Linked DNA regions of Homo sapiens. The protein of the gene in region 2 interacts with the protein of the main gene of each other region in a pairwise test. Each region holds a gene or a part of one and is shown on either strand. Other genes may lie near its edges.

The links.
Region 1: the proteins of C10orf67 (region 2) and ACSF2 interact in binary tests that used the Homo sapiens proteins (3 or more experiments, as listed by UniProt).
Region 3: the proteins of C10orf67 (region 2) and SYT16 interact in binary tests that used the Homo sapiens proteins (3 or more experiments, as listed by UniProt).
Region 4: the proteins of C10orf67 (region 2) and NOD2 interact in binary tests that used the Homo sapiens proteins (3 or more experiments, as listed by UniProt).

Annotation. Positions count from the first base shown.
Region 1 is NC_000017.11:50,464,206-50,471,231, reverse strand, and holds part of ACSF2 (medium-chain acyl-CoA ligase ACSF2, mitochondrial isoform 2 precursor), read right to left. Parts: intron 7,015-7,026; coding exon 6,938-7,014; intron 6,737-6,937; exon of another isoform or gene 6,707-6,736; coding exon of another isoform or gene 6,633-6,706; exon of another isoform or gene 5,935-6,632; coding exon of another isoform or gene 5,793-5,934; intron 5,526-5,792; coding exon of another isoform or gene 5,362-5,525; intron 3,193-5,361; coding exon of another isoform or gene 2,419-3,192; exon of another isoform or gene 2,352-2,418; intron 205-2,351; coding exon 97-204; intron 1-96. Other genes in the region: CHAD (chondroadherin precursor), read left to right, coding at 2,419-3,192, 5,362-5,525, 5,793-5,934. UniProt on the Homo sapiens protein: Acyl-CoA synthases catalyze the initial reaction in fatty acid metabolism, by forming a thioester with CoA. Has some preference toward medium-chain substrates. Plays a role in adipocyte differentiation.
Region 2 is NC_000010.11:23,285,796-23,292,821, forward strand, and holds part of C10orf67 (uncharacterized protein C10orf67, mitochondrial), read right to left. Parts: intron 5,485-7,026; coding exon 5,337-5,484; intron 4,802-5,336; exon of another isoform or gene 4,772-4,801; coding exon of another isoform or gene 4,741-4,771; intron 4,164-4,740; coding exon 4,105-4,163; intron 1-4,104.
Region 3 is NC_000014.9:61,990,677-61,997,702, reverse strand, and holds part of SYT16 (synaptotagmin-16), read right to left. Parts: intron 1,828-7,026; 5' UTR 1,684-1,827; coding exon 1,161-1,683; intron 1-1,160. UniProt on the Homo sapiens protein: May be involved in the trafficking and exocytosis of secretory vesicles in non-neuronal tissues. Is Ca(2+)-independent.
Region 4 is NC_000016.10:50,724,602-50,731,627, forward strand, and holds part of NOD2 (nucleotide-binding oligomerization domain-containing protein 2), read left to right. Parts: intron 1-887; coding exon 888-971; intron 972-2,813; exon of another isoform or gene 2,814-3,849; intron 3,850-4,411; exon of another isoform or gene 4,412-4,549; intron 4,550-5,216; coding exon 5,217-5,300; exon of another isoform or gene 5,301-5,352; intron 5,353-7,026. UniProt on the Homo sapiens protein: Pattern recognition receptor (PRR) that detects bacterial peptidoglycan fragments and other danger signals and plays an important role in gastrointestinal immunity.

The DNA.
Region 1 (7,026 bases), on a different chromosome or scaffold from region 2:
TTTGACTCTCTCACTGAAAGCAACCGATGTCCCAGCTGGGTGCACCCCAGCTGGGTGACGGGAGGTGGGACTTTGGAGTCTTGGTCAGGGGCTCACCTCCGTGTGAGGCATAATTCTGCCCACGCTTTCTGCCTTCTGCTCCACAGTGTCCTCAGGGAAGTGCGCGAATGTCACGGGACTGTTCTCTGTGGTTCCATAAGCAACCTAGAGGGTCCAGAAAGGGTGTTTGAAGAGGGCTCAGCACGTGCAGAGGGATCAGGTGAGCTATCTGAGGAAATGGGAAGGAATTCATAAAAGAAAAGGGAAAGTGGAGGGCAGCCGAATGGTGGAAACAGAGACATCATTGGTAGGGGCCTGGGGTCAGGAGGCAGAGGTGCTGGGAGTGAGCAGACTAGATCTCTGCAGGGCCCCAGATCTGAAAGAAAATTGAGAGCAGGGACACCATTCTCTTCCAGCTGGAGCTCTCTCAGTGCCCCGTTTCCCTGGAGCAGCCACCTGTCTGTGCCTGTGGCTCCGGTATTACCAACACCCCACACTTCTCCCCCCATCCCCTGGCTGCCTTAACCCCACCTTCCTGATTTCAGGCCACATCCCCGGCTCCTCCCTTCCAAGCTGAAGGCCCCATAAACTTGATGAGAAAGCCAGCCTGCCTTGGCCCAGCTAGGAGTGGCACAGACACAACCCCACCCCCGCATTCTGCAAACCCTGAACAAGTGCCTGGCCTTGGGGCAGGCGTCCCCCAAGCTCTGGAGAGTTTCCCGTGAATTTATTTCCATCAAAATAAAAAAACAACCTAAGCAGTGATTTTAAAAACCAGTGGTACCCCCACCCCACCTCCCCCATTTCCAGTGGTTGGAAAGCCTGAGCAACAGAAAAACCAGAAGCCAGCCTTGGAGAAGCCTAAATACCATCAAGGAATGGTCTAGGCCAAGTATGACCCTCCTATCCTAGAGGCAAGGGGCAGAGAGGTTTGGGAAAAGGGCAGGCCCTGGAAACCAGGCCCCAACACGAGGGTACTGGGTAAGGGAAGAGAGGCTAGTTACCCCGTATCCTAGGTCCCCTTTAATCAACGGATACCAGATCTCATCCATCCTCCTCCCTGCACCAAGCTTCCCCCATATCAGCTGCTCTGGCTCTGGCACGGCTGGGGTTTGGTTCAATGTGGGTTCTGGTTTCTCCTTCCACCCCTCATCACAGACAATATCCTGTGCCAGGCAGCTTGGAGCTCACCCTGAGGCCAGAGCTGTGACCCTGCCTGCTCACCCTCCCCTTTCCACAGGAATCCGGACATCGTGGCTGGCAAGTGGGCACACAGAAATCTGGCGGGCTGGGGCGGGACTGCCCACAGAACTTAGGGTCTGGCAGCCAGAGCCGTCCAGGGCTGGTCCCTCGACCTGCCCCACCCCCTCCCGCACCCCTCCTCACAGTCCTGGGGCCACCGCCCGAATGTGGCATCTGCCAAGTACACCTCGGCGCCACTCAGCCGCCACCCTGAGACCCCTCAGGGGCGGGTCCTGACCACTAGGGTTGGGGATGAGGGATGGAGATATTTCGGGGCGATGAAGGAGGGGGGATGGTGCGACTGTGCTTGTGGCCTGTGGTTTCCAGGTGTGTTTGCCATTCCTGTGGGCCACTCTCCCCCACTTCCCACTTCTCTGCTTAGCCTTCAGCGGTGGAAAAAGGGGATGAGGGCGCCGGCGACAGAAACGCAAGCGGGGTTGGAAGAGAGGGGTGGGGGCGCGCCCGAGGGTGGGGAAGGAGCTCGGGTCTACCCAGGGCCAGCTTCGGCGCGTCGAGTCTGAAGTGGGAGACCGACGCCGGGGCGGCTCTCACGCTCGGCAGGCGCCGCACAAGCGCCCCTTTAAAGCGCAGGCAGCTGGCCCACCGCAGGGAGACGCATCCAGCTGTCCGGCCCCGCTTCCTCCCGCCTCGCATCCAGGGCACCCGGCCGAGCGTGTGTGGATGGCGCGGCGTGGAGGCTCAAACCTGAGCAAACAAATAAGTTGAGGGAACGCCTCCCTCTCTCCGATGTAAACTCGGGGCTCCAGACATAACTATTCCCCCTTCCCAGAAAAGCCCCGGGAAAGGCGGTAGGCAGAGGAGCACCATAGGAGAGCGGGGGGCTACAGCCGGGGCTCAGGGCTCGGGGCTCGGGGGCCACGGTCCCACCCCCTCATGCACGGTAGCCGGCTGGGGGAACGGCCCCGCCCCCTTCCCCGTGGAGGGCGGGGGCGCATCTCTGGGCGCGAGCGAGTTAAGCCCAGTGGCCTCGATGCTCCACGTAGGAGCTGGCTCGGCTGCCGGCTGCGGTCAGGGCCACCGTATAAAGAGGGCGGCAGACCCGAGCGCCTAGGACTCGCCGCTGCCCGCGCCCCGCCGCCGCTGCTGCCCCCAGCCCCGGCCCCAGGCGTCCCAGCCATGGTCCGCCCAATGCTCTTGCTCAGCCTCGGCCTCCTGGCTGGTCTGCTGCCGGCGCTGGCCGCCTGCCCCCAGAACTGCCACTGCCACAGCGACCTGCAGCACGTCATCTGCGACAAGGTGGGGCTGCAGAAGATCCCCAAGGTGTCAGAGAAGACCAAGCTGCTCAACCTACAGCGCAACAACTTCCCGGTGCTGGCTGCCAATTCGTTCCGGGCCATGCCGAACCTCGTGTCATTGCACCTGCAGCACTGCCAGATCCGCGAGGTGGCCGCCGGTGCCTTCCGCGGCCTCAAGCAACTTATCTACTTGTACCTGTCCCATAACGACATCCGCGTGCTGCGCGCAGGTGCCTTCGACGACCTGACCGAGCTGACCTACCTCTACCTGGACCACAACAAGGTCACTGAGCTGCCCCGGGGGTTGCTCTCCCCGCTGGTCAACCTCTTCATCTTGCAGCTCAACAACAACAAGATCCGTGAGCTGCGCGCAGGCGCCTTCCAGGGAGCCAAGGACCTGCGCTGGCTCTACCTGTCGGAAAACGCGTTGAGCTCCCTGCAGCCCGGGGCCCTGGACGACGTGGAGAACCTCGCCAAATTCCACGTGGACAGGAACCAGCTGTCCAGCTACCCCTCAGCTGCCCTGAGCAAGCTACGGGTGGTGGAGGAGCTGAAGCTGTCCCACAACCCCCTGAAAAGCATCCCGGACAATGCCTTCCAGTCCTTTGGCAGATACCTGGAGACCCTCTGGCTGGACAACACCAACCTGGAGAAGGTGAGCTCCTGGCTGTGGGCTCTGCCCTGGTTCCTTCTTCCCTTCCTGGAGGCCCCAGGAGCCAGGGCCACAGCTGGCACCATCCCCCGTCCCCAGGTTCCCTGTCCCTCTGGCTATCTCCAAGGTGAGCAGCTCTGCCACCTCCCTTCCTCGCCTTGTCACATCCCTACCCTAATCCCTGTCTGCTGCCAGTCTCGACCACTGCCCTCCTAGGATTCTTACATATAAAAGGAGTGGGACTGCCCTGGCCCCACAAAAGGCCCCCTAGGGCCATCTCCAGTGCTTCCAAACCCCCAACTGTGAGCAGCAGCCACCTCTTCCTGTTGGGCCTTCCACCCCTCCTCTGCTGTTTTTCCCGTCTCCAGTAAACCTACCACCCCATAAAGGAAGGTTTGTTTATTGAGGAGCCTTCCAGAGGAGCTGGGCAGATCAGGCCCACAAAGAGACCCTGTTCCTGGTGGGGGCTGTGCATGTGTGCTAAGGGGGAGTGGGGGACTGGGGAGTGAGGGGAAGCAAATGCCTGAGGAAGACATTCTCCATGCCCCATAGAGGCCCTGGTGGATGGCCCTGCCCAATCCACACAGACACAATTCACTGCATTCTCAAGTCCATTGCAGCTCAGTAGGCGTGGGACCAAGGGCTCCCCCAGGATGCAAGCATCGTGCCCATGGGCTCCGTGAAGGGGCAAAGGCAAGACCACTATTGTCAATCCTTGGCCCAAGACCCCAGGTGTCTCTCCACAGAGAAGACTGGCGTGACTCACTGTCTCCAGACTGCTAACTGCCCTTTGCCCTCCTCCGTCACTAGACCCATCTCCTGTCTGCATCCTCACTCATTCCTTTCTCCCCTGGGGTGCCCAGTGTCTGGCCAGGTGGGGCTACCTTGGATCAGAGCAGAATCCCTTCTCTGGGACTGGAAAAATCACCCTGGTACAGGGGCTTCAGCCAGGAGGTTTGGGTGGGGAACCAACAAGGTAGAGGAGAGTCTGGTTACTGGAGACCTTCATACCTCAATGTGGGCCACAGGAAAGGGTGCGGGTGTGGAGATGTGGGCAGAATCTCACTTGGGCAGCAGCCAACCTTTGTCTGGGTGGAAGGAGCCTGCTCAAGCCTGCCCTTCTTCAGCCCTGCCTCTCCCCAGCTGAAGTTGGAGTCCCCTGTGGCCCACCAGTGCCAGAGTGGTCTTTCAGTGGGCAGCAGAGCAGCGAATTAGGGGCTGGTTTGGGGCAGGGGAGGCCAGACAGGAATTGTGGCGCCTGGGCAAAGGTGTGGGCACCAATAGAACATTTCCTCTGGAGCCGTCCAACCTGGCCAAAGGCTCCACCAAGGTGGCTTCACAAATAGCGTCTGGCTGGCAGTGGGGGAGCAGTGAGGACAGAGCTGAGGGAAGTCCTGGGACCCTGGGACTGTGGGGAGCCTGGGCCCACTGCCCACTCCACCAAGCACAGACCAAGTTCACCGTGTACCAGTTTGGATTGCTGGGGCCAAACTCTGGCAGCCCCACAGTCCCAGTGTTTGTGCAGGGATTGTGGTGCCAGGGGAAGAGGAGCTGGGTGTGGTCCTGTGGCTACTGTTTACCCACTGCTGTGACCCAGGGCAAAGGACTGCGCTTTTTCCGTTTCCCCATTTGCATATTGAAAATAACACCACCTGGCTGGGCGTGGTGGCTCACGCCTGTAATCCCAGCACTTTGGGAGGCTGAGGCGGGTAGATCACGAGGTCAGGAGATCGAGACCATCCTGGCTAACATGGTGAAACTGCGTCTCTACTAAAAAAATACAAAAAAATTAGCCGGGCATGGTGGCGGGCACTTGTAGTCCCAGCTACTCAGGAGGCTGAGGCCGGAGAATGGCGTGAACCCGGGAGGCGGAGCTTGCAGTGAGCTGAGATCGTGCCACTGTGCTCCAGCCTGGGCAACACAGTGAGACTCCATCTCAAAAAAAAAAAAAGGAAAAAAAAAAAAAAAAGAAAATAACACCATCTGTCTCAAAGGGGGTTGTGTAGATTGGATTATCTGAGATCACTTGGTCATACTGCTTTGAAAACTGGGAAACTCCTCAAAGTGCTATGGCTCAGGTTCAGGGAAGGATCCTGCCCCTCTGGCACTCGGGTGCTTACTCATTCACTCATGACCACCTTGCTCCCACCTTGCTCCCACCTTGCTCCCCAGTTCTCAGATGGTGCCTTCCTGGGTGTAACCACGCTGAAACACGTCCATTTGGAGAACAACCGCTTGAACCAGCTACCCTCCAACTTCCCCTTCGACAGCCTGGAGACCCTCGCCCTTACCAATAACCCCTGGAAGTGTACCTGCCAGCTCCGGGGCCTTCGGCGGTAAGAACACTTCCATGTCACTCCCAGAGCCCACCCTCATGTGATAGAGGCACATTAGCCCTGCACTAAGACATGTTGGACATGCATCCTAGATCTGCTACCTAATAAGCATGGGACCCTGGGAGCCTCAGTTTCCCCATTTGTAAAATGAAGATGACAGCTTCAGACTATCCTGTGGCCAAGTCAATCCTGGCCCCATAGTTCACTGCCCTTCCCCCCAGCACTCCCACCTTCTTCCCCAGCCCCAGCAAGTTTCTGTCTCTCCAGGTGGCTGGAAGCCAAGGCCTCCCGCCCAGATGCCACCTGTGCCTCACCTGCCAAGTTCAAGGGCCAGCACATCCGTGACACGGACGCCTTCCGCAGCTGCAAGTTCCCCACCAAGAGGTCCAAGAAAGCTGGCCGCCATTAAACAGGTGGGGGCCAGGTAAACAGGTCCCCTATGTCCCTCTTTGGTGATTCCAGCAAGTGAGCTGGTATCTTCCAGGATACCCCCTGGCCCTGGAGGGTCAGGCAGACCCTCCATTTTTACAGAGAGAGGAGGGGACGACTGGGTCCCCTGTTGAAGGGAGGAAAAGGTCCTGCCCAGGACTTCCACCATTTTCTTCAAGCATCATCTGTGTTGTTGGAGTACTGACATCGATCTTTGCCTCTTTGCAGGTTCTGACCCAGCCAGTCCTGGTGACTGGCCTCTGCCTTCCACCGGAGAGACTACTGACCTTCTCACCTCCACCCATACCTTCTCCCCACAGCCTCTGCTGATGCACAGAGCTGCCTACACCTAGACACGTCCTGGCAGGGGGCCTCGGGCACTCCACTACCAACCCAGCTCCACCCAGCAGTGTCCTGGGGAGAAGGAAGGCTGAGCCTCTCCCCAGCCTTCATGCCTTCCCCACCCTCCAGCTCCTCTTGGAGAAGCTGTTGCTGAGACCCCCCCCCCAAGTCAATCAGAACCACAACAGGTTGGTCATCAGGATGGCCACCCTCCCAGGATCATCCTTCCTCTGTTCCTCTTTCCCTGCCACGTGGAAACAATCATCAGATCCTTGCCCCACCCCTTGCTTCCAGAAAGGGTTTTAAAGCCCATGCCCCAACTCTGCCAGCCCCCACCTGCCAGGACGTTCTAGCAGGACATCGGTGCTTTGCTGTCCATCTTCCCATGCTGCAATTTCTTCCTGAGATTTCTATAAATATAAATGTATGTATGTATTATATTTACTCCCCTGCCACCTATCTCCTTCACCCACCAGGTGCTGATGAGGTCAGACTATCTTTTCTCACATCTGCTTTCTGGAAGGAGGGCTGGCTGAGAGGGTCTCCTTTGAACATCTGGCCTGGACTCATCCCCATGTCTGTCCATCTGCTGTCATCCCAGGCCTGGCCTGCCCACAGCCCGGGCCGCAGTCACCACTCACCACCAGGTCCTTCATATTTATCTTGTTGATGATGGCTCGGATCAACTCTGGAGGTGCAGGGGACCCAGCAATGACACCTGAATCAGAGA
Region 2 (7,026 bases):
TAAATAATTGGAAATTAAATTATCAAAACTTAGTTCCTCACTTGCACTGGCCACATTTCAAGTGCTCAATAGCCACATGTGGCCAAGGGCCACCATGGCACAGTGCAGATTTAGAAAGCTGAGGCAGCACTTAACTGATATATTTAAACTCACAGATATAGCCAGCCATCAACTGGTGGCTTACCAGTGAGATTTTGTTTTTTTGCTTTAATTTGTTATTGTACTCCTTATAGAGAGTCAGAAGTACATGCTACTCATTTCTACCAGTGGTATACAGACTGAAGAGCTTGAGAAACATTTTCAATAAAGAACCAGGCCCAGTGCAGTGACTCACACCTGTAATCCTAACACTTTGGGAGGACGAGGTGGGAGCATCACTTGAGGCCAGGAGTTTGAGACCAGCCTGGGCAATATAGGGAGACCCTGTTTCTGCAAAAATAAAAAAATAAAAAATTAGCCAAGTGTGGTGGTACTCCTGTTTAGTCCCAGCTACTCTGGGAGCTGAGATGGGAGGATCGCTTGAGGCTGGATGTTTGAGGCTGCAAGTGAGATATTATTGTACCACTGTACTCTAGCCTTAGGGACAGAGTGAGACTGAGACATAGAAGGGAAGGGGAGGGGAGGGGAGGGGAGGGGAGGGAGGGGAGGTGAGGGGAGGGGAAGGGAAGGGAAGGGAAGCAAAGAAGGAAGGGAGGGAAGAAGGAAGGGAGGGAGGGGAGGGAGGGAAGGAAGGGTGGGAAGGGAAGGAAGGGAGGGAAGGGAAGGAAGGGAGGGAAGGGTGGGAAGGAGGGAAGGAGGGAGGGAGGAAGGAAAGGAGGGAGGGAGGGAGGAAAGGAGGGAGGGAGGAAAGGAGGGAGAAAGGAGGGAGGAAAGGAGGGAGGAATGGAAAAACTGGTGATGGTTCCCTGGTTGGTTATTAAGTGAAACTAGAAGGCTGAGATTTCATTTCTGACCTTAGAGGTTGATGCCAAGAAGGTTAAATGGAATTTACATTATTGTCACTGCAAATAGGGTGAAGCCTAAGAAAATGAACTCCCCTTGTGAAAATCTGTGAGGGATTCAGTTATCAGGGAAACATCTCCCACCTCTGACCAATCAGGGTAACCATTTCTTTGAAAAATACTTCTTAAAAGTAGTTTTATCTAAAATCTGAGAATATCTTGAATGAGGAAATAAGAGAGGACACAAACAAATGAAAAAACATTCCATCCTTATGGATAGGAAGAATCAATATCATGAAAATGGCCATATTGCCCAAAGTAATTTATAGATTCAATGCTATTTCCATCAAACTACCATTGACATTCTTCACAGAATTAGTAAAAACTATTTTAAATTTCATATGGAATCAAAGAAGACCCTGTACAGCCAAGACAATCCTAAGCAAAAAGAACAAAGTTGGAGGCATCACACTACCTAACTTCAAACTATACTACAAGGTTACAGTAACCAAAACAGCATGGTACTGGTACCAAAACAGACATATAGACCAATGGAGCAGAACAGAGACCTCAGAAATAACACCACACATCTACAACCATCTGATCTTCAACAAACCTGACAAAAACAAGCAATGGGGAAAGGATCTCCTATCCAGTAAATGGTGCTGGGAAAACTGGCTAGCCATATGCAGAAAACTGAAACTGGACCCTTTCCTTACACCTTATACAAAAATTAACTCAAGATGAATTAAAGACTTAAATGTAAAACCCAAAACCATAAAAACCTAGGAGAAAACCTAGGCAATACCATTCAGGACATAGGTGTGGGCAAACACTTCATGACAAAAACACCAAAAGCAATTGCAACAAAAGCCAAAATTGACGAATGGGATCTGATTAAACTAAAGAGCTTCTGCACAAAAGAAACTATCATCAGAGTGAACAGGCAACCTACAGAATGAGAAAATCTTTGCAATCTACCCATCTGACAAAGGTCTAATATCCAGAATCTACAAGGAACTTAATCAAATTTACAAGAAAAAAACAAACAACCCCATCAAAAAGTGGGCAAAGGATATGAACAGACACTTCTCAAAAGAAGACATTTACGTGGCCAACAAACGTGAAAAAAAGCTCAACATCACTGATCATCAGAGAAATGCAAATCAAAACCACAATGAGATACCATGTCACACCAGTCAGAATGGCGATTATTAAAAAGTCAGGAAACAATAGATGCTGGTGAGGCTGCAGAGAAATAGGAACACTTTTACACGTTAGTGGGAATGCAAATTAGTTCAACCATTGTGGAAGACAGTATGGAGTATTCCTCAAGGATCTAGAACCAGAAATACCATTTGAACCAGCAATCCCATCAATGTGTATATACTCAAAGGAATGTAAATCATTTTACTATAAAGAGACATGCACACATATGTTTACTGCAGCATTATTTACAATAGCAAAGACATGAAACCAACCCAAATGCCCATCAGTGATAGACTGGATAAAGAAAATGTGGTACATATACACCATGGAATACTATGCAGCCATAAAAAGGAATGAGATCATGTCCTTTGCAGGGATATGGATGAAGCTGGAAGCCATCATCCTCAGCAAACTAACACAGGAACAGAAAACCAAACACCGCATGTTCTCACTCATAAGTAGGAGTTGAACATTGAGAATACATGGACACAGATTGGGGAACAACACACACCAGGGCCTGTTGGGGGGCTGGGGGGTGAGCAGAGAGAACTTAGAGGATGGGTCAATAGGTGCAACAAACCACCATGGCACATATATACCTATGTAACAAACCTGCACATTCTGCACATGTATCCCATTTTTTTAGAAGAAATAAAAGACAAAACATTTTTAAAAATTAAAAAAAGAATATCTTGAATGGCAATATCAGGCCTGGCTGAAATCTGAACCTAAACTTAGGCACATGTGGTGGCTAAGCTCTTCAAATGTGGCTAGTGCAACTGTGAAACTGAATTCTTAATTTTGTCTGATTTTAATCCATTTTAACTTAAAAATGGATACTCGGTTCAGTTACTGGAAGATATTTATGTTTATTTGGAATAACTTGGGGATGTGAATCTGCTTGTTTATCTGTAAACTGTATGAACTGTAAATGCATTCCTATTCTATTCATCTCTTGGAGTATTTTTCAGTGCCTCAGGCATCGTGCTCCCCACTAAGAGACCAGATAGCGCAGTTTCCACCCTCATGGAGCCTCCAGTAGGGCAGGGAAGATAGACCATAACAGAATGGTAACTGAGAGCCACAATAGGGAAGTTTGCGGATAAATGAGAACAGAGTAGGGAAGCCCCACGTGTGCAGGGAGAGCAGGAATTGCTGAGATCCTACTGCATTCAATTCAATGAGCTAAGAAATCTTGTTGTTGTGGGGGTTGGTGGTGTGTGTGTATGTGTGTTTCAGACAGGGTCTCACTCTGTTGTCTAGGCTGAAGTGCAGTGGTGCAATTCTAGTTCACTGCAGCCCCGAACTTCTGAGCTTAAACAATCCTCCTACTTCAGCATCCCGAGTAGCTGGGACTACAGATATGTGCCACCACACTCGGCTAATTTTTTTAATTTTTATAAAGAAGGGGTCTCACTATGTTTTCCAGTCTGGCCTTGAACTTCTGAGCTCAGAAGATTCTCCAACCTTGGCCTGCAAAGCTGCTAGGATTACAGGTGTGAACCACTGCGCCCCACCTTGGAAATCTTGATTTTTATTCTACCAAAAGAATTCCCTGCTCTAAATATTTACCAGATAACATAAGCCCAGCTCATTCATGAACATCAACTAACATCTGATCTGAAAATAAGACTGTTCATTTTTAATATAACTTTTTCCTTAACTGCAAGCTCATCTTCAGACTTCTCTGTGTCATGTAACTATTCGGTGCCTTAAAATCAACAAGGCAGATGGTCAGTGATCCCAAACAAAAGAAGTATCTATACATCCGTGAGTTTTCAAGGTGGAGTCCTTATTTGCTTCTAGTCACCCTTCCCAAATAGTGGGGAGAGATTAAATATGTGAATCAACTTTCCTCTATGTCATAAGACACTCTGGACACAGTGTTATTTGGCCAATTGCGCCTATAGTTCCATTTAAAAGAGTCATTTATCAACGTAAAACGTTATAGTACCTTTTGAATAGTTTTGTGATCCTTTTCTGCCATCTCTTTCATACTTATAAGTTCATCTTCTGTAAACAAAAGGAGAGAGAGGCCAACCATGAAATTACATGCTTATGCCCCTGTATTTAAACGGCCTGCTTCAGGGCAGGCTGTGGGGCACTAGCAGGCATAGTGGACACAAGGCCTAGCAGGACTGTGACCTTCACAACTGCCCTTGACATTCGCAGCCTTCTTCCTGCTGTTCAGATGGCCGGTCAGATAGGGATTAAGAAGTAAGTTCAAGATCCAAGTGTGGCTGAGGGCTGAAAGCTTTTCATCAATACTAGCGACGGACATTTTTGCTGTTGGTCACAGCCAATACAAAGAGCTTTAGCAGGTGGCAGTTTATGACTTAATAAGAACGACCCAAAACTAAAAAGCCTTGCTATGCCACAGCAGAAGAGAATGAGACTATACTGGCATGGTAGAATTTTACATCCAAGGGATAATATTAATATAATATATCTCATTTTACTGATATTTTGCTATAATTCATTGTATTGCCTGCTCATTGCTTTGAATACTGCAGATTAAGGACAACATCATGTAATTAACATAATCACTCGGATCACAGTTAAATGAAAAAATACGTTAGAGCAATCTCACCTTGGTGATTATTTTTTTCTCTTTTCCACATGTTCTAACAACTTCGGTGATTTAAACACAACTTTCACCAATGTTTGTGGTATGAAAGAAAAGAGGTATTAAGTATACAAATGAAATTGTGTATTTAAGCTTTGCATCAAAAATTGAAGTAACTAGTAAGTACTAGCATATTTTCCTGAAGGGCTAACTCTGTTTTCCCTACAAAGCATATCCCTATATGTATTCTTAAGTTTTTAAATGTTATCAAGTTTAGATAATCAGTTAAGCATCTGAAACAAATCAGCAAAAGTTTCTATCTGGCTATAATATTTCTAAGTGAAATGGAGCATTGATTAGCAAATTTTTGCAAAGGCCAATGTCTGTCTTGAAACAACACCCTGAATTAACGTGACATGGCTCAGGGGTACAACTACAAACACATCCTCTGTCCCAAGCAAGAAGTGCTATCTTTAATAAAAAGCAAAGATGGCTATGAAATTCATCTTTCAAATGTAAATAACCAAACGAATGTATGTTTGGAAAAGACAAACATAGTTATGAGCTTTACAAAGTGACCAATATACAGATTTTTCTCAAAAGTGATTTCAAAATGTTACCTAATCCTGAATTTTCTTTTAGATTGATCTGGATTTCTTCTTCAAGCTCTGAAATGATCTGAAGCAGCCTCTCATTTTCCACTTTGTACTCCAAATTTTCCTTTTCTAGGTTTGATTTTGGAGAGCTGGTTTCTTTGGCAAAAGATTCCTAAAAGATGGAGAATGCCATATTCCTAAGCAGGGAGCCAAGGATTTAAATATGCAAGACAAGGACAATACAGATACAGAAAAGCTATCATATAATTTTCTGAATTCTATTACACACTTATAAGAATAGTAAAAAGGAAGGAGCCTAAATAGAGCTTGCTGGAAGAAAGGCTCCAGTACATTCTGTACAAAGACCTCAACACATGGGGACATTTTATTGACAGGAATAATGCATATCATACTGTTTGTGTGCCCTCATCATTCAGGTCAATTCATTATGGAGGCTGTGTCCGGGGAGGCAGCTGGGGCCCCTCCACCCACACTTCCCTCTGTGTGTGTCTGAAGTGCTGTCCGCCTGTAACTAGGCAGGCTGGGGGGACCAGGACGGGCAGCGCCAGGGGGTGGCAGAGTGCATGGCTAAGGAGGGGGGCTTGTTGCCTTTGTGGCATTTCCCAGTGTCAGTGCTGCCAGTGTCATGAGGAGCACATCACATGTCAAAGTGGTGACGTTTTCAGGCTGGGAGCCGCATGGAGTCCATCAGGCACACGGATATCCACACAGTTGGTTTTCTGCTTGGTGGAGGAGCCACCCAGAGGCAATTCATATTCTGAACATTAACATGGCTTTGCATGCTTGTCACACGGGGTCTGTGCAGGCGTTTAATGCTATTGAAGACTTTGGTTTAAATCTCTATGCAAACAGTGATTACCTTGTAAGAAGGTTTCAGGATAACTTACAACAAAAGACTTTAAAGTTATAGTTTTAGTAAAGCAAACTCATTTACATTTTTATTATGTGCGTCTTTTGTTTAAATCTTGCCATGTCCATTATGGGAGAGCTTTTTCTTACGCAATAGACGCGCTTATTGGGACAGCTACTCTTTTTTTTTTTTTTTTTTTTGCCTTCTTCTTCTTGTCTGTTTCAAAGCTATTGAAAACATCTGAATATCCTCCCTTATGGCTGTCTAGATTTTATTGCCATGCATTAAAAAAAAAAAAATTAAGCTCTAATGGATTGGGGAAGCTGGTGCAGAACTTTATACTTTATTGTGGTATGATATTAAACAGATTATGCAATCTCAAAATATTATTATGCCAAAGGAGATAGAAGATTCTACATGCCTTGTTCAAAATTACTATAGACATTAAAAATACTTTTGATCTTAAGGTCATCACAGGTGAATTATAACTTATTCTTTTTACAGTAATTCCATGATGGCAATAACTAAAAATAAAATCTTCCCTCAAAAACAAAATAATTTCTCTCGACTGATTTCCCTTTGGAACTACACTTTCATTTAAGGTTAAGGATATGTGGAAGTAAACTATTAAAATATTTTCCCCTGTAACAGTTTTAAAGAAAAAGAAGTGATTTAAATTTTTTGTAGTACATTAATAAGTCCTTTAAAACAAGTGACTTACTAATGAAATTACGTATGGTATATATATGTGTGTGTGTGTGTGTGTAAGAGTTAGTAATATTTAAAATATGTTCTTAAATTTTGCACTAAGCTCAATTACAAATCTTCATGACTTTGATTCAC
Region 3 (7,026 bases), on a different chromosome or scaffold from region 2:
AATATTTCTATAGCCAATTTAAAAGACTCAAAATTGCAATTAGCTACAGCTTATCAGGTTCAGAAAGAATATCAGCCTACCTCATTTTCACCAATTTATTCTAGCATTTCAATGTTACCTTAATTTGAATAAAAGTATCAAGAGAGCATTATGAGAAGAATATGAAATTGTGTTTCTTTATATGCCAAGACTTCATATATCTGGATAAAACTTTTCCCTAAAAAGACAAAGCTAATAGGAATCATGGAAAATGAATGAAGGGACTATGAGGTATTCCAGAAAAGTCTGCTCTCTCCAGCAAGAGGGACATTGAATAACTTTGTCTTTAGATCACATAAATGACTCACCAATCTGTGTGACTTATATGTGCATTACAACTACACACCATGCACACATACCCAAATCCCTTCTGTGTATATCATTTACCTCTGTCCCTTAACCAGGTGGAATGTCCTTACTTCAAGGTTAGAGTATTAGAGGCATGAGAAATTCATGCTGGAACACACCTCAGCTACTTTTAGAGAGTTAATTACATTTTTATCATATTCAATATACATTTATTGAAGGCCCAATATGTGCTCAGTTCTCACAGCATAAATCTTTATAGGCAGTTTTTATTAAATGTGTCCTTACCATTCAGAGCTAAAAGAAAATCAAGCTATTCTTATTTCAGAGATTTCCTATCCACTGTCATCTCACATCACGTCTCAGTGAAACACTGTGAGAAGTGTTCTTGGAGTGTTATCAACTAAAAATTCTGCGATAAGTACGGCTTTTTGCACAGGATTTCACACTGAATAATATAGTAACATCTAGAAATTCCTAACCTAGAAGAAAAAAAGAACATTTTGCAAGATATTTTTAAAAGCATGACATGTGCACAAGGGGCTTCTCAAACAGAATCCACAGACTCGTTTTTCACCATTTCACTTGCTCAGAACTATTGTTTTGAAATATGGAACTCCCAAACGTGGATCCTCCAAAGCTTTATATATTGAAAATATTCCTAAGGATTATATCTCTCAATCAGAAGCCAGTATGTGGGAAGGTATAAGAGAGAGAAAAATAAAATCCACATGATAACTAAAAACAAGTCAAAATAAAATAAGTAGAAATGCTCTTTGGAGGAACGCAGAGAAAATGATGACTGGCTAGCTTACCTTGCTTTTTTCCATTAACAGTTTCTAAAGTACCAGGGAGCTGGCTGTCAAAGCCATGTTGAAGGCCACTTCTTTGCTTTTCAAGGTGATGCTCTTCCTCCGCAATAGAAGAAAGCACATGTGGTAACTTGCGGTCATCACTGGCCCAATTGGGCCACTGGGACATTGTGGAACATGAGTCCTTTGCATGTTGGCTAAGGCTTGGGCTTGAATTTTGGGCAGAGTCCTGCAAATCACTATTACAACATGAGAAATGATCCACTTCAAGAAACAAGGAATTTGCATCCTCTTGACTCCAATCATTGTCTTGTTCTTCATCTTCAAAGTACGTTTCCTGAATCTGAATATTATCTAAGTCCTGATCTAGTTTGTCACTCAATTTAGAGTCTTGTTTGCTTATGTTAACCAGCGAAGCAGATAACATATCTCCTGCTTGCTGGAGAGCTTCATAAACCCGAGATATCCAGGAAGAGAAAGGCTGGAAGAAGTTCTGAACATCCTGAGACGCCATGGCCAACACCATGGCCAGCTATCTGATGTCTACAGTGTCCAGTTGTTCAGTTCCTTCAGTGCTCTGGATTGAATGTGAACTATAGAATAAGCATGTTGAGAAATTAATTTGGAGGTCTCTTAATGGCTGTGAATATTTCACTCTCAAAACTTCCAGCTGAAACAGAGGAAAGAAATACTTACACCTGTTAAAGTTACAACCTCAGACCCATCACCAGATACCTACAGACGATGTCAAACAGCATTTGGGCACAAAAAGGGATCATCAGGAAAATCTTAAAATAGTTACATAAAAATGACTGTGAAAGTCTAGATGTAGATTATTTCAATGCCTATTCACCTCCATAGCCATGTGGAAAACTTCCATTAGCAGTAATGGGTTCTGTTCACGTGGACTGAGAGAAGTCTATCCCCATAGACCATCCTTAACAGTGTGAAAAGGATAAATGAATCTTCATTAAGATCCAATTGGGCATGACATTTCAAAACGCAAAAAAGGTCAGATGTTTCATCTACAAACCTGCAGATCCCAAAGAGCTGACTAATAAGCATCTCTGCTTTATGACACTAAAGTTTATACTTGCAAAGGAAGTATGTGTCTGGAATTAAAAAGCTTTAAACAAATCTTAAAATAGGATTTTATATTTTTATGCAATCTCTAGAAATCATATCTATTCTTGGGGAGCAATCGCTGAAAAACTGAGGGTGGCAAATGGATTATCTAGCTTACTGAAGACATGTCCCTGGAATCTCATTGCTTTTGTCTATGTTCCAACCTCCCGAAGATAGATAGCTCTCCACAATCTTTCAGACTCCTAAATCACACTTCATCCCACAAGATTTACAGCCTGAAGGAAGCAGCTCCAGGATATCAACAGAACCACAGGACACTATGAAGACCCCAGAGCTAAATATTTATACTTTTACATGTATATGTGCATACAATGTATACATACACATATGTGTGTATATTATGTGTGTATATATCTTATTGCTATTACAGTGTTCATCAACAGCTCAAGATGAACGTTACAAATGACTAGAGGGCCTAACACACTGCTTAAACTTAATTACCCAATATCTTGTATAGCAATAACTTCCTTTTAACTAAATCTACTAGCTATCCCTTAGTCTCTTGACCTCAGCCACTGCATGTGATATGACTACTTACATTCTAAAAATTTTTTATTAGCCATTCATGGATGCATTGACTTATTCAATAAACAAATATTGATTATCTATTAAATGCTGGCACAATGCCAGGGATAAGGTAATCCTGAGGGCTTTGCCTCCATACAGCCCACATTTCAGTTACAGGGGAACTGAGTTCTCCACATTTCCCCCCTATGCTGAATAATTCATGTGTCGCTCTTTCAGGCTCCTCCTTGTCTTCCCACCACCTACATGTATACAACCAAAACTTGTCCTATGGCTTCCCTTCCCTGTTATATTCACCAGCTGCAAGAGTAGGCCCATCCCTACATTTCAATTAACACCTTTTTGAAACTCCAAAATATACATCTCCAGCCTTTGCTCAATTTTTCTTTCCAGGCTTGTATCTGTGGCTGTCAAAGCCAATGATTCTCAAACTCTGGTGTGTCAGAAACACCTAGTGAGCTAATAAAGAACACAAAGGCCCAGGCTGGTTGAAGGAAAAGGGCCTAGTCTGAACCTTGGGATTTTTGGCAAGTACTCCAGGTGAGTCTGACACCCACGGAAGTTTGAGAAATACTGATAGACTTGGATGTCTCACTAAAATCTCAAATTCAGCTCATCCAAACCTAGTGTATCACTTTGCTACAAGCGTTCATCACTCTAGACTCACAACATGGGGGATTGTGAATTTCTCTCTTCAACACTACCTTCTTCCATTCCAAACTCCGTTAGCTTTTGGTCTCCAAAGATTCTCTTTCATCATATTTTGTACAGTTATCTCATTCCCCACACCCTAGTTCCCTCACATACTACATACCTAGTTCGCTTCATATGCTCTTCTTACCCAGACTCAATTCATTCTGTTTGCTCACCATAACCTGATTTTATATGAGGTTTACACCTGTCTCCTGCTCTAGAATGGAGGCTCCCTGGATGGCAGGGATTGTCTGTTTAGTTCTCTATTTTATCCCCATTGCCTAGAAGTGTGCTGAGCACATAGTGAATTCTCAATAACAAATCCTATTAAAAATCATGCAAAAAACAACACCTAGCATATATTATGTACTCAGTAAATTGGTTAAGTTGATGGATAAATTCTATCCAGAACTGTTAAAAAGATGTTAAACAATGTTATCACATAAGTTCCCTGCATAGTAACAACAGTAAAGATCCTTTTGCCATTTGTTACATCCCATTTCGCCACTCAAAGTTTTTCGGGTTTTTTTTTTCTCTGCAAATATTTTGTGTAAGTTACTAAGCTTCAGTGCGTCACAGATTTACAAGGTTCTCTCTGAGATTCCAGTGGCTTTAGCTCCCACGGCCATCTTTTTGGTACCTTAAACTTTTTAAGCCAGAAATGACATGTTTTCCTTAATAATTCTTCCATCATTCTATTACACACAAAAAAACTTTGAGTTTTTTGTTGTTGTTGTTCTGAATTTTTTAATTTTTTTTATTTCAGTTCTGGGATACATGTGCAGACGTGCAGGTTTGTTACATAGGTATACATGTGCCATGGTGATTTGCTGCACCCATCAATCTGGATCTAGGTTTTAAGCCCCACATGCATTAGGTATTTGTCCTAATGCTCTCCCTCCCCTTGCCCCCCACACCCCCACAGGCCCCGGTGTGTGATGTTCCCCTTCCTGTGTCCATGTGTTCTCACTGTTCAACTCCCACTTTTGAGTGAGCATATGTGATGTTTGGTAGAAAACTTTGTTTTCATATGCAACCCAAAATCTCTGAATTTGAGCCAGCATCTTCTTGTCCAAATCTTCAAATTAGTACAGCTCATATTCTTGGCCTCATATCCCCTTGGTTTCTATAATCTCTGTTCATCAAAACGAAAATGAAAAAATTCATTTTTTACAAAAATTGACAGTTCATCAAAATGGCAAATTTTGTAAAAAATGAATTTTGATCATTCTCCTAGTTTTAAAGAAAAAAAGCCATTATGATTCCCTGTTACTTAAACTGCAAAGTTTGAGCACTGGTGCTGTCAAAATCACTACTCATTTATGTTTGTTGATATAGCGTTTTTTAAAAATTAATTTGAATGTTTCCAACTCTATATAATCTTCACCTCTCCCTGTTGTTTACAATCCACTCGCTTCACTCATTTCTATGTAGCCTGCCCGACCCCTGGATGCATTTGAATTTCCAAGCCCCACCCTATAGGATAAAGTTCAAATTCTGTACTGTGGCATACAAGAGGAGAAGTGCTCAAAAAAACAATAATAATAATTATCAGCACCATCCAACTGGGCTTAGTGCTGGGGGGATCCTAAAGGCTTCCTGCAAAGTGTAAACACTTTAATTGCTGTATCACTGGGTCTGAGGAGGTCTAGAGGTACAAAAGGACACTGGAAGGGGCTTCAGATCGGTGGCTATTTATCAACCAGCTTGGAACTAATTTCAGGACAACAGCAACTCACGGAGCTCCCGCCTTTTGTCCTCACTGAATACCTAGCTGTCTGAGCTGTCCGCAATAATGCTGCCGCGCCATGAGAACTCAGCCTTTCCTTACCACTCCTCGCTGTAAAGTCCTATGTGCCAGTCTCACTGACACACTAAGCATTTTCCAAAGTGACTGTGCTCTTTCCTGACTTCTGTTTGTTTTGCCCAGGATGACTTCTCTCCCTAAACTGCCCGATACTCATTTTTTATGAGGAAATGTTTATTGCTTCCTCTGTCAACTCTTCATCTACAATCAAAGGTGTGGCCTCAGAGTGTTTTGAATGTGCCTTTATGATATAACGTTTCCCTCGGTATAATGGATATTTGTCAGTCTTCCTCTTCCAATGGACTGGGAGTCCACAAGTGCTAGGGCTGTGCTTATACTTTGTAGCTCCAGAATCCACACAGGGCAGGGGCTCTCCATGTTCCATGAATGAATGAATGAATGAATGAATGAATGAATGAATGAACGAACAAAGTTATTAGTGAAAACATTTAAAGCTAAGTAAACCTGATTCCTTTCTATTTATTCATCTCTAAAGTGGCATTAACGCACTAGATGACTTTTAACACCCTTTCTGCTCTTAAATCCAAGAATTTGCCATTGTGTGCCACAGAACATTGTAATATTGAGGACGGATACAACCAGAAGCAAGATGCCTTTTCATGGAATAGTTCTGTACTTTTTTGTCAATAACCATTGTGAGATGATCCCAGAATAATTGGAAAGAAGCCAAATCTCAGTCTTTATATAAAAGAGTGTCCAGTTGCTATATTCTAAAATACTCAAAAAGAAATGAAACCTACAGCTAGAATCTGAAAAACTACCTAGTTAGCAACGCCAGAGATCTTTCATTTTATGCTAAATCAGCCTAAAGCCAAAGAGGCCCAGCACTGGCAGGGTAACCATGGAGATATCTTTGGGGCTTAGGTAAATTTCAACTTGATTGGTAGAGCACACCAAGGATAATAATGCCAGATATATACTGTATCCTACTTCTTTGGTGGCTTTCTTACAGCTAACAAGAAGACAAAGTAGCTTCTGGTGTTTTAGAAAACACACACACACACACACACACACACACACACAAATGAAAAACAGAAAAAAAGTCCAGTTCCCTGGATTAGAAGGAAAAATACATTTAAGGTCTTGTCATATCTGAGAAGGCCCATTATTACAATTGAAATGGTTCATGATATCTCATCACTATGGAAGTATAAAATGAGACAACAAAAAAAGATGGTGTGTGTGTATGTGTGTGTGTGTGTTTACCATACAAGCTTCTATCACAAACATGACCTGGGAAGATTTACAAAGTATTGAAGTACTCAGAATAAACTGACAATCTAAGAAAGAATTAGTAGCAATTGATAAAGATTTTAAAAAGCCATAAATAAATATATTCTTAAAGGCTACTTTTTTAAAATCTTGGTTTAATTGGAATTCTATTTTAATTAAGATCATTTTGTACATAGGAAATGACTAAGCAGTAAATATTAAAGAGTTGTGTTTCTGTAGAAAGAAAAACTGTCAAATTCCTGAGCCATATGTTTTATCAAATATTTTGATTGTTCTCACCAAAGCTAACTGTGAACAGAGAAGAGGTATTCCATCCCAGAATAACAATGCTCATAGTCCTTTAAGGGTTGTTAGTTAAATCTTTCCAACCCCATTTTCTATCTGATGGGGTTGCTTGCAGGGTTGGGGGACAGTTACGACCTAAGAAGAAATACCAGATTCTAG
Region 4 (7,026 bases), on a different chromosome or scaffold from region 2:
ACTGATCAGCTGGTAGACTGTGACTGACTGAAGCCTGGCTGCTGTGATTGGCTAAGACTTAGCTGTTTGTTATAAGGATATGTTGTTAGGTTGCAGTTTGCTACATAGGAACTCAAAGTACAGAGGCAGTCTCAGGCCAAATTTAGTTTAACTATATGTTAAGCTGCAGGTGACAGAATACCTCCATCTATAGAGGTTTAAACAAGGAAAGGGTTTATTTTTTCCTGTATAGGCAGCTGGATGTAGGCAGTGTAGGGTTTGTACAGTGGCTACAAGAGGCCAGGAGGGGTCTCAGCTCTGTCTCATTCTCTTCCTGTTCCATCATTCTTAGCCTGTGACTTCATTCACATGGTTGGTTGTCTCATGATCACAGGATGGCTGCTCCAGGTGCAGCACTACTTCTGTATTCCCGGATTCGATCTATATACCCAGGAAAGCCATCTGGGTTCTCTCCTTTAAAAAGCATTCCTGGAAGCCCCACCTGTCGACTTCCCCTTATGTATCAACCATGTGTATGTCACTTGACCAACCCACTTGTATGTTGTTTGACCAGCCCTGGCTGCAATGGAGAGTGGGAAATACAGTTTTTTCACCAAGTGCATGGCTGTCCAAATGAAATGAGACTTCCATTAATAAGGAAGAAAGGAAAGATGGAGATCAGGAAGCTGGGGGATCAGGGAACTTATTACATTGAGAGCCCTTGGAGTGAATTCTCTTGCAAATATGTCCCTGGAATTGAGAATCCCCACAACGTACTTTATCTGTTCTTTCTTTATCCATGAGTTTGGGTTTTCAGATGTTGGATTTCCTATATGGGGGGCATGTGAGTTCATCATCTTCCATAATCAATGTTGTATCAACTGGATTTTCTCTCTTCTTCTCACCAGCCTGGAGGAGAACCATCTCCAGGATGAAGGTGTATGTTCTCTCGCAGAAGGACTGAAGAAAAATTCAAGTTTGAAAATCCTGAAGTAAGGAACCCATAAGCAGGAAACAGGACAATAATTGCTGGCCTTTGGAAGGGGCATTTCTGAATAAGATCTGGGCCGCTCTCCGCTGGGCTAACTCATGTGAGGTGGCCTGGTAGAACAGCTTGCCTTGGTCTAGGTGGACAAGGATTCCAGTGCAAGTTGTTTATCTGGGAGGTGGTCCCAGTAAATGCTGATAGGAGAGTGGTGAAGTGAGATGGGGAAGTGAAGGTAACCAATAAAGGGGAGTTATCAAGCCAGTTATCAATGAGGGAAATTGGAGCTCAGTACTCTGGGGCACTCCTGGAGCCAGTGCAGAACACACATGGTCACCTACCCAACCAATGGGCAAGAAAGCCATGGCATTTATCCACCAACCCTCTGTCCTTCCTATGTTGATGTGCGCTCATGGGGCACTGATTCTCCAGCACTTCCAGCTCACCCTCACCCAGCTGAACATGCTTCTGGGGTCAGGAGAATGGCCTCAGGCAGAGAGTGGAAGGTCTTCTCTGCAAGCAGTGGCTGGGGAGGTGATGTGATGGGGAGTACTGTGGCCTCCTCCAGTGGCTGACTCAGTGGCTTGGGACTTGTGCCACAAAGAGATGGACAGCTCAGGTGAACATGAACCCACCTAGTGACCATCATGGGTTTGTCAGGGTGCTCTCTGAGGCTGATGCCAAAATTCTTATTTCAAGTAGACCTCAGGAACCCCATCAGATGGCTCCTTTTGCTGGAGGAAAGTGGCATCTGCCTAGGCAAATGTGGTCCTAGGAAAACGCTTGCCTTTAGAGACAGACAGACAGACAGCTGCCTCTGTGAGTGCCAGCTTTGCTGCCAGGCTGCTACCCACTCTGGCGACACTCATTTGTGTTGCTTTCACAAGCTAGGAAGTTTCCAAATATTTGGAGAAAACACTTCCACTAATTATTTGGGTGGAAATGGGCTGGGAAGTTGGGGTGAAGCCCGGATGTGTCTGAGCCAGATGCCAGCTTTGCACTGAGGGTCGGCCTTTGGGAATACCAAGCCCATTATCAACCAGGTGTGGATATGGCAGGTTTGTCTTCCCTCCTTGTCACAGCCTTACTCCACTTGACTCCCATGGATGCCAGGCAATGAGGCTGGGGTTGGTCCCATGCCACCCTGTCATCAGCCTTATTTTTCAGCATCCTAAACTATATCATCCCCCACAAAAATTGAACTTCTGATATATCTTTTATAAAAAAGAGAAATGCCTACATCTTTCTTTTCCAGGCTTAGTTTCTGCCAAGAGTTGGTTGAGAGCCCAGGCTTGCTGGGTGCAGTGGCTCACACCTGTAATCCCAGCACTTTGGGAGGCTGAGGCGGGTGGATCACCTGAAGTGGGGAGTTCCATACCAGCCTGACCAACATGGAGAAACCCCATCTCTACTAAAAATACAAAATTAGCCGGGCGTGGTGGCATACACCTGTAATCCCATCTACTCAGGAAGCTGAGGCAGGAGAATCACTTGAACCTGGGAGGTGGAGGTTGCCATGAGCCAAGATCACACCATTGCACCCTAGACTGGACAAGAGAGAAACTTCCATCTCAAAAAAAAAAAAAAAAAGGATGAGAAAAATAATAATTTAAAAAAAAGAGTCCAGGCTCTGGAACCAGACAGCCTGGGTCTTACCCCTGCTCCACCATTACCAGCCAGTTCTTCTTGGATGAGTGCCTCAGTTGCCTCAAGTGTAAATGGAGATAATGGCTGGACCTTCATTATAGGCCATGAGCATTCACTGAGAGAATGTAGCTAACAAAAGTGAGTTGTAGGTTGGAGCAAAAGTAATTGTGGTTTCAGACCATGAACTTTAAATTATTATAACTAGGCTAAAATACATCTTTATTAATCAAAATAGGAACCATTAAAATCAACACATTTTTGCCAATAAGAAATAAGTTTGTTTATTCCTGTAGCATAAAAATTCATGCTTCGGGATTCAACAAACTCTTGGAAAGCATTTTCTGCATCCTCCTGGTTGTGGAAGCATTTTTCCTGCAGAAAGTTGTCAAGATTCTTGAAGAAATGGTAGTCAGTTGGCTAGAGGTCAGGTAAATATGGCGGATGAGGCAAAACTTCATAGTCCAATTCATTCAACTTTTGAAGCTTTGGTTGTGTGACATGCAGTCGGGTGTTGTCGTGGAGAATTGGACCCTTTCTGTTGACGAATGCCGGCTGCAGGTGTTGCAGTTTTCAGTGCATCTCATTGACTTGCCGAGCATACTTCTCATATGTAATGGTTTCGCAGGGATTCAGAAAGCTGTAGGGGATCAGACTAGCAGCAGACCACCAGTGACCATGACCTTTTTTTTTTGGTGCGAATTTGCCTTTGGGAAGTGCTTTGGAGCTTCTTCTCGGTCCAACCACTGAGCTAGTCATTGCCAGTTGTATAAAATCCACTTTTCATCGCACGTCACAATCAGATCAAGAAATGGTTCGCTGTTGTTGTGTAGAATAAGAGAAGATGACACTTCAAAATGACGATTTTCTTGGTTTTCACTCAGCTCATGAGGCACACACTTATCGAGGTTTTTCACCTTTCCAATTTGCTTCAAATGCTGAATGACCATGGAATGGTCGATGTTGAGTTCTCAAGTAGTTGTAAGAAAATCAGCTTTGATGATTGCTCTCAATTGGTCATTGTCAGCTTCTGATGGCCTGCCAGTACACTCCTCATCTTCAAGGCTCTTATCTCCTTCGCAAAACTTCTTGAACCACCACTGCACTATACGTTAGTTAGCAGTTCCTGGGCCAAATGCATTGCTGATGTTGTGAGTTGTCTCCGCTGCTTTACAACCCATTTTGAATTCAAATAAGAAAATTGCTTGAATTTGCTTTTTGTCTAACATCATTTTCATAGTCTAAAATAAATATAAAATAAACAGAAAGTATTAAGTCATTAGCAAAAAATCATAAAGTGAGAATTGTGCATTAAAATGATGTATAGCATAACCACATTTATTTAAGAATGTATTCCAATATCAAATGGCAAATTTCAACAATGCAAAAACTGCAATTACTTTTGCACCAATCTAATAGAAGTTCAATAAATACTGGCAATTACAATTGGCATTGCCTTAGGGTCAACTTGTAAGACATTCCTGAAATTGTGGGAAAGGGGGAGGACCTGGAGTGGACATTATTGGAAGGCAAAGCTGTAACCAAAAGAGCAACCTGGGAAACACATGACTCCTCTGTTGCTGTCCCTGGCCCTATCCTGTCTCCCCTCCCTGTTGTCAGCTACCTCATATGTTCTCTAATCTCTGTCTCTGTGCCCTCAAAGACCCCCCTGAAAATAGAAATATTACTGCTCATTGGTTATTTTCTATCAATTAAGTACTGTATTAGTCCGTTTTCATGCTGATGATAAAGATATACCCAAGACTGGGCACTTTATGAAAGAAAGAGTTTTATTGAACTTACAGTTCCACGTGGCTGGGGAGGTCTCACAATCATGGCTGAAGGTGAAAGGCACATCTCACATGGCAGCAGACAGGAGAAGAGGGCTTGTTCAGGGAAACTCCCCTTTTTAAAACCATCAGATATCATGAAACTTATTTACTGTAATGAGAACAGGATGGGATTCAATTACCTTCCACTGGGTCGCTCCCACAACACGTGGGAATTCAAGAGATTTGGGTGGGGACACAGCCAAACCATATCAAGTACTGTGCAAGTGTTTTAGGCATGCAGAGAGTGGTGGGTCTTCCCAGCAAGCAGAGTGTGGGGAGGTAATGGGGGACTGGTGGCTGACTTAATGGCCCAGGACCCATGCCACAAGGAGATGGATGGTGGATGTGAATAGGAGCCTGCTTACACCCATCACAATTTAGATTCTTATGCTCGATGGCACGGGTACTCTTTTAGGCCCATTTTACCAATGAGGAGATTGGGACTAATTTGCTCGAGATCAAAAAAGAAGTGGTGTAGGTGGGATTTAAACCCAGGATGTCTAGCACTAAAATGCAGGTACTTAACCACTATCCTAAGGGAGTGGCTACTTAATTTGATAAACTCATCTAGTGAATGGAAGAGAGACGGTTACATTTCACTGATGGTACTGAGCCTTTGTTGATGAGCTCATTGGGAATCTCAGACATGAGCAGGATGTGTCTAAGGGACAGGTGGGCTTCAGTAGACTGGCTAACTCCTGCAGTCTCTTTAACTGGACAGTTTCAAGAGGAAAACCAAGAATCCTTGAAGCTCACCATTGTATCTTCTTTTCCAGGTTGTCCAATAACTGCATCACCTACCTAGGGGCAGAAGCCCTCCTGCAGGCCCTTGAAAGGAATGACACCATCCTGGAAGTCTGGTAAGGCCCCTGGGCAGGCCTGTTTTAGCTCTCCGAACCTCAGTTTTTCTATCTGTAAAATGGGGTGACGGGAGAGAGGAATGGCAGAATTTTGAGGATCCCTTCTGATTCTGACATTCAGTGAGAATGATTCTGCATGTGAAGGATCTGATTCTCTGTCTAAGAAAGAAGTCTTTACCTCTTTAAGTAGGGAGCAATGATTTCATTTTTAAACCTTGACTATTTATTCAGCAACTTCTCTGCTCTATGAGATAGTGTAGGAATGGGGATGTGGTTGAAGAATGAAAAGAAAAGTCAGCTCCCGCCCTCCTAGAAATTGCATCTGCCTTCACAGGTCAAGGATATTGGATCAGACCTTCTGCGGTTCTGAATGGAGATTACACAGGTTAGGAGCAGGTTGCACAGTGTTTCCAATTCTCTATAATTAAAGCCATAGACTTTCATGTATTGAAAAAAGCAAGAATTGCATTCTTGACAGATTCTTTCATTGCCTTAAAAAGAATGACTAGCCTTGGGAGTCTGGGCAGCTGGGTCCAGTGTTGTAGACTTTCTCTCTGCTGAGCCACAGCTTCAAAGATTTGTCCTTCTTGTTTCCAGGGATCTATTTCTCAGACAATAAGTAAAGGCTTTCCCTGGCCTAATGTGCTGTAAGTGAATGCTACTATATATGTTCCAGGCACTGGGCTAGAGACTAATATTTAAAAGCCAGGAAATTTCCTATAGAAAATCTATATCTCAGGGTTTTCTCAAAAGAGCTGGGAACTCTGGATGCCCATTCATGATTCCAGTAGTTAACCAGAGTACAAGAAGGGCTGAGTCTTCTCAGATGGGCAAACCCACTCTGGCTGACTGCAGATCCACCAAGCCTATTGTCTTAGACCAGGACCCTTTGGCAACTCATTCCCATAAGCCTGTGACCCTTGCTTTAAATATGCAGGCCTTGTCTTCTCTCAAAAAGCACATCAAGGCTGCAGCGAATGCAGATATCAAATGATGAAGTTAAAAACAAAAGCTTTGCTGGGCGTGGCAGCTCACACCTGTAATCCTAGCACTTTGGGAGGCTGAGGCAGGAGGATCACTTTAGGCCAGAGGTTCAACACCAGACCTTGTCTCTCAAAAAATAAAAAATTCAGCTGGGTGCGGTGTAGTTCCTAGCCACTTGGGAGGCTGGGATGGAAGGATCCCTTGAACCCAGGAGTTCAAGGCTGCAGTGGGCCATGATTGCATCACTGCACAGGCGACAGAATTAGATCCCATCTCTTAAAAAAATAAAAAATTTAAAAGTGACTTCAAAAATCTATGCTGTGATGGAGAGATTTTTCCTTCTGTATGATTGTGATAGCTCTGTGGCCTATGACGTCATCAGGTTCTGGGCAAAGTGTAGGTTTTCTGTTTCTTTGTTTTTGAAACCATTGCACAGTCCTAAGAAACATCACATTCTGGGTCCTGGGCACCAGCCAACATGAGGTTGATATTTTAAGGGGTCTGATGTTATTTGCTGCCTGTTGATGGAACTTGGGAGGGCACCAGGGTTTGCTCATTGCATTCTTGACAGATTCTCTTATTGCCTTAAAAAGAATCACTGGCCTTGGGGAGTCTGTGGCTGGCTGGGTGCAGTGTTGTGGACTCTCTCTGCAGAGTCATGGAGCCTTGTTCAGAATGCTTCCTGAGCTGCCCTGGTTGGCCAAGGGTAAAAACAGCCCTGACTTCCCTGCAAGAAACACTG